2 separate regions of the Homo sapiens genome follow, and region 2 is linked to region 1. The links come from fine-mapping of genetic effects on gene expression. Tissue or cell type: thyroid. Region 1 holds a variant in brackets; the other region holds the start of a gene. All regions are shown on one strand. Distances are from middle to middle.

The links.
Region 2: it holds the start of SH3GL2, and the variant in region 1 is fine-mapped to the expression of SH3GL2 in thyroid (GTEx, PIP 0.96).

Annotation. Positions count from the first base shown.
Region 1 is chr9:17,618,304-17,623,681 of GRCh38, forward strand. The region is part of intron 1 of SH3GL2 (SH3 domain containing GRB2 like 2, endophilin A1); the gene reads left to right. Among named protein-coding and RNA genes, the nearest start is that of SH3GL2, 42 kb to the left of the region's middle. The variant G/T (reference allele first, on the strand shown) is at 2,033.
Region 2 is chr9:17,576,510-17,581,887 of GRCh38, forward strand. SH3GL2 (SH3 domain containing GRB2 like 2, endophilin A1) reads left to right here and starts at 2,557. Exons shown (of 9, transcript NM_003026.5): 1 at 2,557-2,778. The coding sequence starts at 2,734. RefSeq lists a silencer at 1,369-1,567.

The DNA.
Region 1 (5,378 bases):
CAGTAGTACCTCCATTGATATACCCTTCTCTAATGGGATTCTACCAGGGTTGGAGAGTTAGGAAATTGTTACTTTCTTCATACATGGAGAGGAGCATAAGTGAGCCATGTGCCATTCTGGACTGAGGTGCCACCATGGTGCCAGCATTTGATAATAGTAAACTCATGACCCCTTATTCATAGTTTGGAAATTTAAAAAACGCTGGAAAATGTGACGTTTCTTCATAATTCAGTTAGCAGTAAAACCTTGCCTGTGTTGATGTAAAGGTATTTATAGTCTTTATTTACCTGGTTTTGTGTGAATGTTAATGCGCTTGACTGTAGGGTGCTGGCCTAGACCTGGCTTGGGGCTTTATTTAGTAAATATGCTGTATCACTCTTCTAAAGTTTGTAACATTCTATACTTGGAAACACTTTGGTCCCCAAAGGTTTCAGAGAAGAGATTGTGAACTTATATATTGAACTAAATTTTTGCCAAATTTGGCTTATTTTGTGTGTGTGTGTGTGTGTGTGTGGTTTAAGGAGTTGAAAGTTTAATAGAAGAAAGGAGAGAGGAGAGCATCTCCTTGCAAGAGAGAGAGAGAAAGAGAGAAACGTCTGAAAAAGTCCAAAGTTGGCTTATTTTTAAAAATTCAGCGCTTTTAGTAACGTTTATTGATTTTTTTAAATTCCAAAAATGACATAAGATCATTTTGAAAAGTTTAAGTACAAAAAAGTAGTAATATTATCAACCAACTGTATGGTACTTAACTGTGCGCTAGATACAATTCTCAGCACTTTATGTGCAGTAACTAATTTAATCTTACGAATCCCATTATACCTACTTTACAAGTGCAGAAGCCGTGGCATAGTAACTTGCTCAAGATCCCCTAGTTGATGGCAGAGCTGGGCTTTGAACTCTGGCACAGAGAAGGAAGTGATTCATCATCTCCACAGCTGGAGTGGGCTGCTGTGTGTACATGGATGTATTTCCTTATAGCCTTCTTTCAGCCTTCCCTACTCAACTATATTTGAGAATTTCCCCTGTTGTCTTAAATATTTTCAAAAAACCTGATTGTTGAATGGCTGACTACCTATTTAAAAGAATAGGTGAGGTGGGGCATGGTGGCTCACGCCTGTAATCCCAGCACTTTGGGAGGCTGAGCCAGGCAGATTACCTGAGGTCAGGAGTTCAAGACCAGCCTGACCAATATGATGACACCCCGTCTCTACTAAAAATACAAAAATTAGCTGGGCTTGGTGGCATGCACCTGTAATCCCAGCTACTCGGGAGGCTGAGGCAGGAGATTCGTTTGAACCCGGGAGGCAGAGGTTGCAGTGAGCCAAGAGTCACCATTGCGCTCTAGCCTGGGCAACAAGAGTGAAACTCCATCTCAAAAAAAAAATAAAATAAAATAAGTGAGTGAACCATAAATTATTTAAACATTCTTTTGTTGTTGGGCATTTAGGCTCTGTCCATTTTTTCACAATAGAAAATTGACATGGACACATTTATGTATAAATACTTATCCATATCTGATTATTTCTTTAGAGAATGTTTTAATGGGGCTTTTTAATAGACTCTTCATATATACTGTGAAATGTACCAGTTTATTCTCTCATTAGAATTCATTGTCATCAGCCTGGAGTGTTAAATGCTTTTCCCTTTGATTTCTGATTCTGTGATGTAGTATCTTGAAGTTTTCTGAGAAAATCAGACAGATGATTGGAAATTTAGTATGATTTTTTTTAAATTGGTCAGGAAACAAGTAGTTGGAATAACTGATTTTATAAAATTTTATATTTCAAAAAATTCAATTTTAGAGCCATTTTATTTTCAGATTAACCCATGAAGTTAAATCAAGGCTCCATTTCACATTGTTATGAAGAGCTGGTAGAAATAAGGATAGTGCAGCATTAAGAGATACTCTGACCTGAATCTTACTGGTATGTGATCAGTATATGCCTAAAACAACCATTCAGTAAACATTTATGGAGGATCTGCTACGCACCATACACTGCATTTTGCACTGGGTATCCAGTGAGGAACAAGT[G/T]TATAAAAGGAAAAATAGCAAATACTTACACAGTGCTTTTTAGGTGTCAGACACTGTTTTAACAGCTTACGCATGTTACTTAATTTATTACTCCCAACAACCCTATGAGGTAGATACTATTATTGTATCCATTTAACTGATGAGACTGAAGCACAGAGAAGATGAGTAATGGGCTCGCAGACATGCAACTACTAACCAAGGCAAACCACTGACTGTGCTAGTTTGGAAGGGCAGACAGAAGAGGGTTGGTGCAGTACTCTGGGCATGAGAAACTGGTGGCTTTTGCCACCAGCAAATTGGTCAAGCAGTCCAGCAATGGGATTGGAGAGAAATGGAGGCATCAGAAAGATTTTTCAAGATAGAATTTATCAGACATGGTGATTGAATGTGGAGGGAGAGGGAGAAGTCAAGGGTAAAGCCTAGGTATCTTGGTATGAGTGACCTGCTAGATGATGGAGCCCTTCAGTGAGTCCAGGAACAGTAGGAAAGAATGAGGAGCATGTTTTAGATTGGTGATGTCAGAGGGGTCTGAAAGGGGGAGGTAAGCAGAGGGGCATTATCTTCAAAATATTTGGAGTCAGTAGCTTTGAAGCTCACCAAATATACCCTGGTAGTTTAGTTATCAGAAAATGAGTTTTTAAAAAATACTTATAATGTGTAGTTCATGAGAAAGTTTTCCAGCGTTTAAAGATGTTGACAGAGTTTCAGTTGATTGCTGTGGTTTTCGTGTATGAAAAACATGTAAAATTTGTGTCATATTAATGCCCTTTTGAAGACTAATTTCAATGCCTGTAGACAGCTTTCTAATGTAGTTGTATCATGATTTGGGTTATCAATAATCTGTGAATGTATAGATTGTTGCCATTTTCCTTCATTGTAGATAATTTTACAATGAATGTCTTTATGCATAAAACAGTTTTGATATGCAGGATTATTTCTTTGGAGGTATAGCTGAACTACAATTTCCGAATCATACATATCACAAAATTAACTTCTAGAAAGACTGTGCTAATTTATGTCCGCAACTACGTGCAAGACCTGCCTCTTAATCAGCCATTGGGTTGAATTGTCCTGATGATTTTTGTGGCACCTTCATTCAATTCCTGCTTTTTGTAACATATCCCATGATCACAATCATATGATGACTTTGTATCCTGTGTCTTTATTTTATTGGAATCAATGCCTGATTCATACAGAATATTGCCAAGAAGTTTTACAGATATAATCAGATAAGAGAGGAGAGATCAAGATCATGTTCTTTAACTCTGTTTAAAGTATTGATGTCAGGATGATACTTCAAGTTTGAGGTGAAGTTTTTGTGCCAAAGCCTGGCTCATGGCTGTGAGGGCACCTAGGACTCACTAAAAGATGCGTGTTCTTCAGTGTGCACATTACCTGCCTTCATGTGGTAAGTGGTGGAGAGTTAAAGCCATTACATGGATCACTCAGGACAAAAACAAATTTTACTGTAAAATTTCTGGTGATTTGGGAGCAAAACTAGGATAACTCTTTTGCACTTGCAGTATGCCATAAGTGCCGCAGTTTTTGACTTTTTCTACTTTGCCCAATAAAAATGTTGCTCTACAACCCTTAATTTTTATAACTGTTCTGGCCTCAGTTTTCCACAGTGAATGTTCCTAGTTTGTGTAATGTTCTTTAGGTTGCTAATTTCTGCCTCCAGAGCCAGGAGATCTGTCTTCTTTTGATTATTCCCAAAGGTAAATTTTGGGAAAACTAGAATCAGGCTATTTCCCTATTTTTCATTTGGAAATTTCTGCATTCATAAACAGTTGCTTGTAACCTTTTAATGAATATGCATTAGGAGTTGTTTTGAAAATTTATTATTTAGGGATTATTTATTAGCCTGGTTACTTGCCAGGGTGGTACATTAAAAAAAAGTTTGTCCACCCATCTGCTTCATCCCGTAATCCCCCCAAACAGTCATCAACTAGGAGAATCGTAATATGCAAATAAGCCATCTGCAGTGTCTAAATGGGAGGATAGCTTCCAATTTTTAGTCAGAAACCTGCCAGGGGCAGGGGAATAATTTCAGTAGCATTCTTCCAAGGGGGAGGATCTCTTAAGAGGCAGCATGATTAAAAATGCTTCCATAGTAAATAAGGACACTAGAATTGGGTGTCCAGGCCACTTGTGAGCAAAGAACCTCCTATTTCCAGATTCGGCGCCACCTGTGGGATACTCATGTTTCATCATAGGTGTCCACAACTTTATTCTTTTAATACCTCTACAAAGACCAAAAAAAAAGTGATACCAATTAAAAAATGTGGAAGAATATTAATTGGGATTGAACAGTACCTGTGGTTTTCTCATGTGACCCTGGGTTTGTCTTATTCTCTGAGAAAGTGGGCTGGTAGGTAGGTGCTCTTGATGTCCTTAATTTCAAAATGAGGAAGTCAGAGCAGGCACGGTAAGTAAAGAATAATGGATCCTGAGCCTCACCTTTTGGTCACTCCGTTGGCAGGGTATGTGCTTGGGGCATGAAAACCAAGACTCAAAGACTGCCAATCCTCTGCCGCAGTTTTTGAGAGTAAGAACTATGCTTGCTGTAATATGGCAGAATGAAATTATACCTGCTCCTTCCTTGCTTCTTCCTTCCCTTCCTCCCTCCCTTTTCCTTTCGTTTCCTTTCGTTTCCTTTCCTTTCCTTTCCTTTCCTTTCCTTTCCTTTCCTTTCCTTTCCTTTCCTTCCCCTTCCCCTTCCCCTTCCCCTTCCCCTTCCCCTTCCCCTTCCCCTTTCCTATCTTTGCATTCGTTCTGCTTTAGTTCACTGTTTGGAAGGGTGAAATAAAGCCCTGGTTCTGTTCTTTCCCCTTGTCCTTCCATCGGAGTGGGCCCTTTAGTGGTTAAGGGTGAGGGATGAGAAGTTAGTCTCTGGTGTCTAAGGTCCCTACGATACGTCTGAATGTTGCCAGGTGTAGAAGATGTGTCCTGTCCATAGGAGGAGCTTGTGGGAAGCTAGCTGGCGAGGTTCAGAAAGTAGAGTTGTGGGATATGTGGCCTTAGGTGTTGTATACGTATGTAGTTCAAATGGAATTAGATTCTATATAGGGTAGTGTGTAGACTGAGAACAAAATGACCTATCAATCTTAGGGAATGAATTAAGAAGAAGGTTGCCTGTGAAGGACAAGTCAGAGAGAAATCCAGAAGAGATTGATGTTCTGAAAGTTAAGACTGGACAATGTTTCATGAAAAATGTAATCGGAGAATGAAGGTTCAATATGTTTTTTGTTTGCATTTTCTTTTTGCTTGGAAATCATTTCAAATTTACAGAAAAAAATTACAAAGAATACCTGTCCATTTATTTATCTAATTCACCTTTTCTTAT
Region 2 (5,378 bases), 42 kb before region 1:
GCGATAGTTTACTGAGAATGATGATTTCCAATTTCATCCATGTCCCTACAAAGGACATGAACTCATCATTTTTTATGGCTGCATAGTATTCCATGGTGTATATGTGCCACATTTTCTTAATCCAGTCTATCATTGTTGGACATTTGGGTTGGTTCCAAGTCTTTGCTATTGTGAATAATGCCGCAATAAACATACGTGTGCATGTGTCTTTATAGCAGCATGATTTATAGTCCTTTGGGTATATACCCAGTAATGGGATGGCTGGGTCAAATGGTATTTCTAGTTCTAGATCCCTGAGGAATCGCCACACTGACTTCCACAATGGTTGAACTAGACACTCCTGTTTTTAAAACCATCAGATCTTGTAAGACTCATTCACTACCACGAGAACAGTGTAGGAAAGACCCACCCCCATAATTCAATCACTCCCACTGGGTTCCTCCCACGACACGTGGGAATTGTGAGAGTTACAATTCAAGATGAGATTTGGGTGGGGACACAGCCAAACCATATAAGATGAGGTGCAGAGGATGCCTGGGCGACTAAATCAATGGTTTCCAAAGGATTTAATGTAATGCCCTTAAGTAGTTTTTTTCTCCCAAGGTAGTTTCTTTGAAGTTAAGCAGCATGAGACTTCCAGGTTGGTGGATGAAGAACCAGGGAAAGATAGAAACTGCCTTTTTTATAATGTAGGGCTCAGTTAAGTATTCAAAGTTCCAAGGAGGCAATTCAGGCCCCCATTTCACACCTTTCACTGTTAGAGAGCAGAGCTCCTATCCATCCCAGGCCCTTCCACTTTGTAGATCAATTGCTCTATCTTTTGGCAGCTTCAACAAAGCCCTGTCTTATGAAAATGCTTTATTGTTCAGATCAGGGACCTGGTAGTAAAAATTAACTATAAAATACTTTTTTTTCTATTATGCAAGTAATGGGTAGCCTTTTTAAAAATTGGAAACATAGAGAAAAAAGTTTATTCCTAACAACCGGAGCCTCAGTGGATTAAAATTACTCAGGTTTCTCACTGATGCTACATGCCCATTGAACGTCAGGTGGGGACTCTGCACTGCTTTAGTCTCACTCTGGATACTGGCTGACAGACCACAGCTTTCTAGAATATTGCGGCCGAGGAAAAGAAAGCTTTGCGGCATCTCATACATCTCATATTGCTGCTGCAGAAGTGACAGTCACTTTTCCTCTTAAACCTCTAGTCAAAACTTGTAACCATGCCTCCACTTAACAAGAGGTTTGGAAAGTGCAATTCTGCCATGTAGGGAAAGGTATATGAACAGTGGTAAGGGCTACCACACTGGAGAATAGCTCCTTTCATCTGCCTCCCTTTGCAGCCTGCGTCCCTAGTCCATGCGCTCTACTGCTCCAGTGCCCACCACTGCTTGACTCTGCCTTTGTGTGTGTCAGTTCACATTATCAAGAAGGACCATGACTGGTAGCTCTACGGATGGAGGACCCTTTTGTAGCAGGTGTTCACCCTGTGCCCAAGCCGCAGTGCCTAGAAGAGTGGGGATGGGTCTGTGGCTCCTATCAGGCTGCAGGAGTTGCGGAGACAGAAAAAGTATTTCTAGGACTCCCATTTGGCCTTGCAGTCTCTACACATCCTTGGCAATTTCTCCCATCTTGGCTTCTCCTTCTTATCACTTTGGTCCACATACGGGGACAGCGTCTAAGTTCTTTCTGACCACCTCCTCAGTCCTAGAAAAACCAGACTTGGTTAAGTACCAGAGCACAGAAGGCATTTAGTGCTGCTCTGCTCCCAAGTCATCTATTAGTTTCACTTTAGCCAGCCATACCTCCTTGGTTACATATGAAGCATCTGTATATAACTTAGTATCATGCTTTTTCACATTATATTTTGATTTTTATCGGACCGGAAACCCTAAATCCACAAGCATAACAACAAGATCACATTTGGGCTTTTTCATTTCTGTAACCAGAGGATTGAACGCTAGTTTTGTAGTAAGACTTCAATTCTATTTATCCGTCCAGGCTTAAGGGTTCCTGTTCTTCTTTTTAAGTCATTAAATTGTATCAGACAAGGGGGAAAACGCGTGTGTGACTTTCCCTAAGGTAAGATGGGCTTAAGGGATATTGAAACCAGGGCAGAGAAATGTTTTCTGTGACCCACCAGTCAGGGCAAGGCATAGAAGGAGCAATGACTTATTCATTAGCCCAGATAGAAGGCCAGTCTTTTTCAGGCTGCGGCGCAGAGACGCCAGGCTCAAAGGGCAGGAGGGCCGTCTGCAGGCAGCGCCGCCGCGGCTACCTGGAAGCCCAGCAAGTCACCTGAGTCCTGCGGGTGCCTGGGCTGCCAATCTGCAGCGACCCGTCCGCAGCCCCCGGGGGCAGGAACACCAACCCCGGGACAGGAGGACGTCCTCGGCCCGCTGACTAGGGATCCGCCAGCGGGTGCCGCTGAGCCACATCCCCGCAGTTGGCGCCAGCATCCAGGTACCGCGCGCCACAGCACCTGCCTGGGCGTTCCCGCGCTTGGGGCGGGGCTTCCCGCGTCCCCTTTAAGAGGCCGCATCACCCGCCCTTGACGTCAGAGTGTTTCTCCGCAAGAGCCCGTGTCCCGCTAGGCTCCGCGCCCTCGCGCCCATAGCCCCGGCGGCGGCACGACCAGAGGCGGCCAGGGGAGCGCGCCGCCCCGCTCGGCCCTCCAGTCCCCCTCCGCCTCCTCCCTCCCGCACAGCAGCCGCCAGCGCGGCCTCCTGCACCATGTCGGTGGCCGGCCTCAAGAAGCAGTTCCATAAAGCCACTCAGGTAAGGCGCGCGGCAGGTGCGTCCCGGGGCAGTCCGGGGCGAAGCTGCGAGGGGCGCGCTCGGCGCTGGCCGTCCGGCGGCAGCTTGGGGAGTTCGGCACCGAGCCTCGCCCGCGCCGGCCGCGCCCCGCCTCGCAAGCCAAGGCGGCGGCTCGGGGCATCCCCGGTCTGGGCGTCCACCCTCGGTCCCCCGCCCCCGGCTTGGTGCGCGCTGCCTTCCCGCGGGTCCCCGGCGTCCTGCCTGGTAGCGCTGCTCGCCGCCCCCGCATCATCTCGCGCCCGTGCTGCAGGAAGGGGACCGCGGCTGCACTGCTGCCGCGGCGCGCAGGTGCCTTGGCGGCGCGGTGGGAGATTATGTAAAGTCGCCTCTTCACGGGTGACCTTGCGGAGTCGGTGCACCCGGCTTTCCCGGGATGTGTTGGCATGAGCGGTGGCCGCACTGGGGGTGGCGGGGCGGAGGCCGGCGGTTTGCGCTCCTCTCCCTTACCCTGTTGTCAGAACCCTCCTTCCCCGCCGCCCGCAGGCTCCAGGGGAATGGAAGGCTGGGGTCTTCCTTTAGGGACCCGCATACATTAACTTTTACCTGGAGAACTCGGTCGTGAAACTCCTTTGAGGCCAGGGCATGACAAACAGTCTGCGGGTCTTAAATATTTCCCTAAAACAACCAAATTGTTGAAGACTTAAAATCATCATGTATTTTAAATTGTTTTTAATAAATCTTTGGCATCTTGGATGTGCCCATTTTTCTTTATGGGGTTAATAAGCTGTGACTGTAATAAAACTGATTAATTTAGATTCTAATAATTAAAATCATTGGACTCAAAGAATTTTACATAGGGGCAAGTAAGCGAATACTTACGCTGTGACCTATTTCTTACATAATGTGTGTGATTACTACTTTTTTATCCTTCTGAAATAGGTTCAAATTTATGGGATCTTTAAGGATTTTGATGACTTACCGCGAAATGTTTTTCATGATTTGGTGTTAAATAGTTTTTCATAGGTTAGCCTTAATTAACGAGCTTTCTCATAATTTCTCGGAAGTAGTGAGGTTTTTCCTAGGCTACCACAGTGGCAGCCTTGTTATGAACCACATCCAGAAAAGGTGAGGGTTGTGTTTTACAGAACCTTGGTTAACTTAGGGTGACAGATGCAGCATGTAATTCCCGTCGTGTGTGTGTTTGCACGCATCTGCATCATCTTCATCACACATTCTTGCCTTTATAGAATCAATTATACCTGTCAACTTAGGAAATCAAGAAAAGTAAGACTATTTCTGTAAAAATGTTTCTTAATGTAATTATTTTTGCTTTTCTATTATAATTGGAGTTATCTGTGACCTCTCTGCCAGACATGTTTATGAAAGTAAGTGATTTGTTTGTTGATGTAGTTTGGAAGGCTTCTAATAACTTTATACTGCAAGTTCTTTCAGGTTTACAGAACCAAGCATATGTGCTGCCCAGGAATTCTGTGGCAGGACTTCTTCGATATTACTAACCTTTTTGATTGCTCTACTGGTCACTTCTCTATAGCATATCTCAGCACTGCGTTTACCAACACATCTTTTTTCCACTTGGATTCTAAAGATTTCTTTTGCAAAGCTTAGTGCCCTCAAAGGCAATTAAGAGTCTTGGCTTTGGAGTGGGAAAGGCTAAGGTTTGAATCCTGCCTCTGCTGCTTCTGACCTTGAGAGAGTATTTAACTTCTGAACCTGTCCATGCTGAAGTGATGATAATTTCCGTTGTCTCTTCAGGGTTGAGGTGAAGAGAAACGAGTGTGTAGAACACACGTATAAAGTGTTCAATAAATTATAGTTATTGACATAAAGGATATTTTTATTAGTATAAAATACTATCCCTTATGCTGTGAAGAAGTTACCCAAGCTAGACCTTTTAGTTTTTCCAACTTAAAAAATAGAGCGCTCCATTTCCGCTAAATCTTGAAGTTCTGTGTCGCCCTAAAGTGTAGAAAAAATAATTTAAACTGCGTTAGGAAAGAACTTAAAAGGTTGGAGAAGGTCGGCATGTGATGCGATACGGTTAATGTTTATCACACCGAATCCAAATGCAGAATCACTGCGTCATTGTCTTCCTTTTACTGAAAAGCCTTTTATTTGAAAGGTGAAGCAGCACGTAGTCTCTTATCCATAATTTAGTGTAGCACACTCTTAGAAAGTCTAAGGCACAGGTGACTGTTCTGTGCATATGTATATTTAGGAGAGTATGTAAAGCCCATGTTAATGTTTGCATGTGACAAAAAAATTAGAGAAATAGTCCTGTCCTACTTTTGTAGCCATTTTTTTCCATCAGGTCCGTGAACCTGATGTTATCTACAGAGAAGCTTTAGACCTAGAATTACTTCCTTTTGAGAACTGATGTGCTGGATAATATAGCCTGGGTTTGTTTGTTTGTTTATTTATTTATTCATTTGAGACAAAGTTTGACTCTTGTCGCCCAGGCAGGAGTGCAATGGCGTGATCTCAGCATACTGCAACCTCTGCCTCCTGTGTTCAGGCGATTCTCCTGCCTCAGCCTCCTGAGTAGCTGGGATTATAGGCATGCACTACCACGCTCAGCTAATTTTTGTATTTTTAGTAGAGAC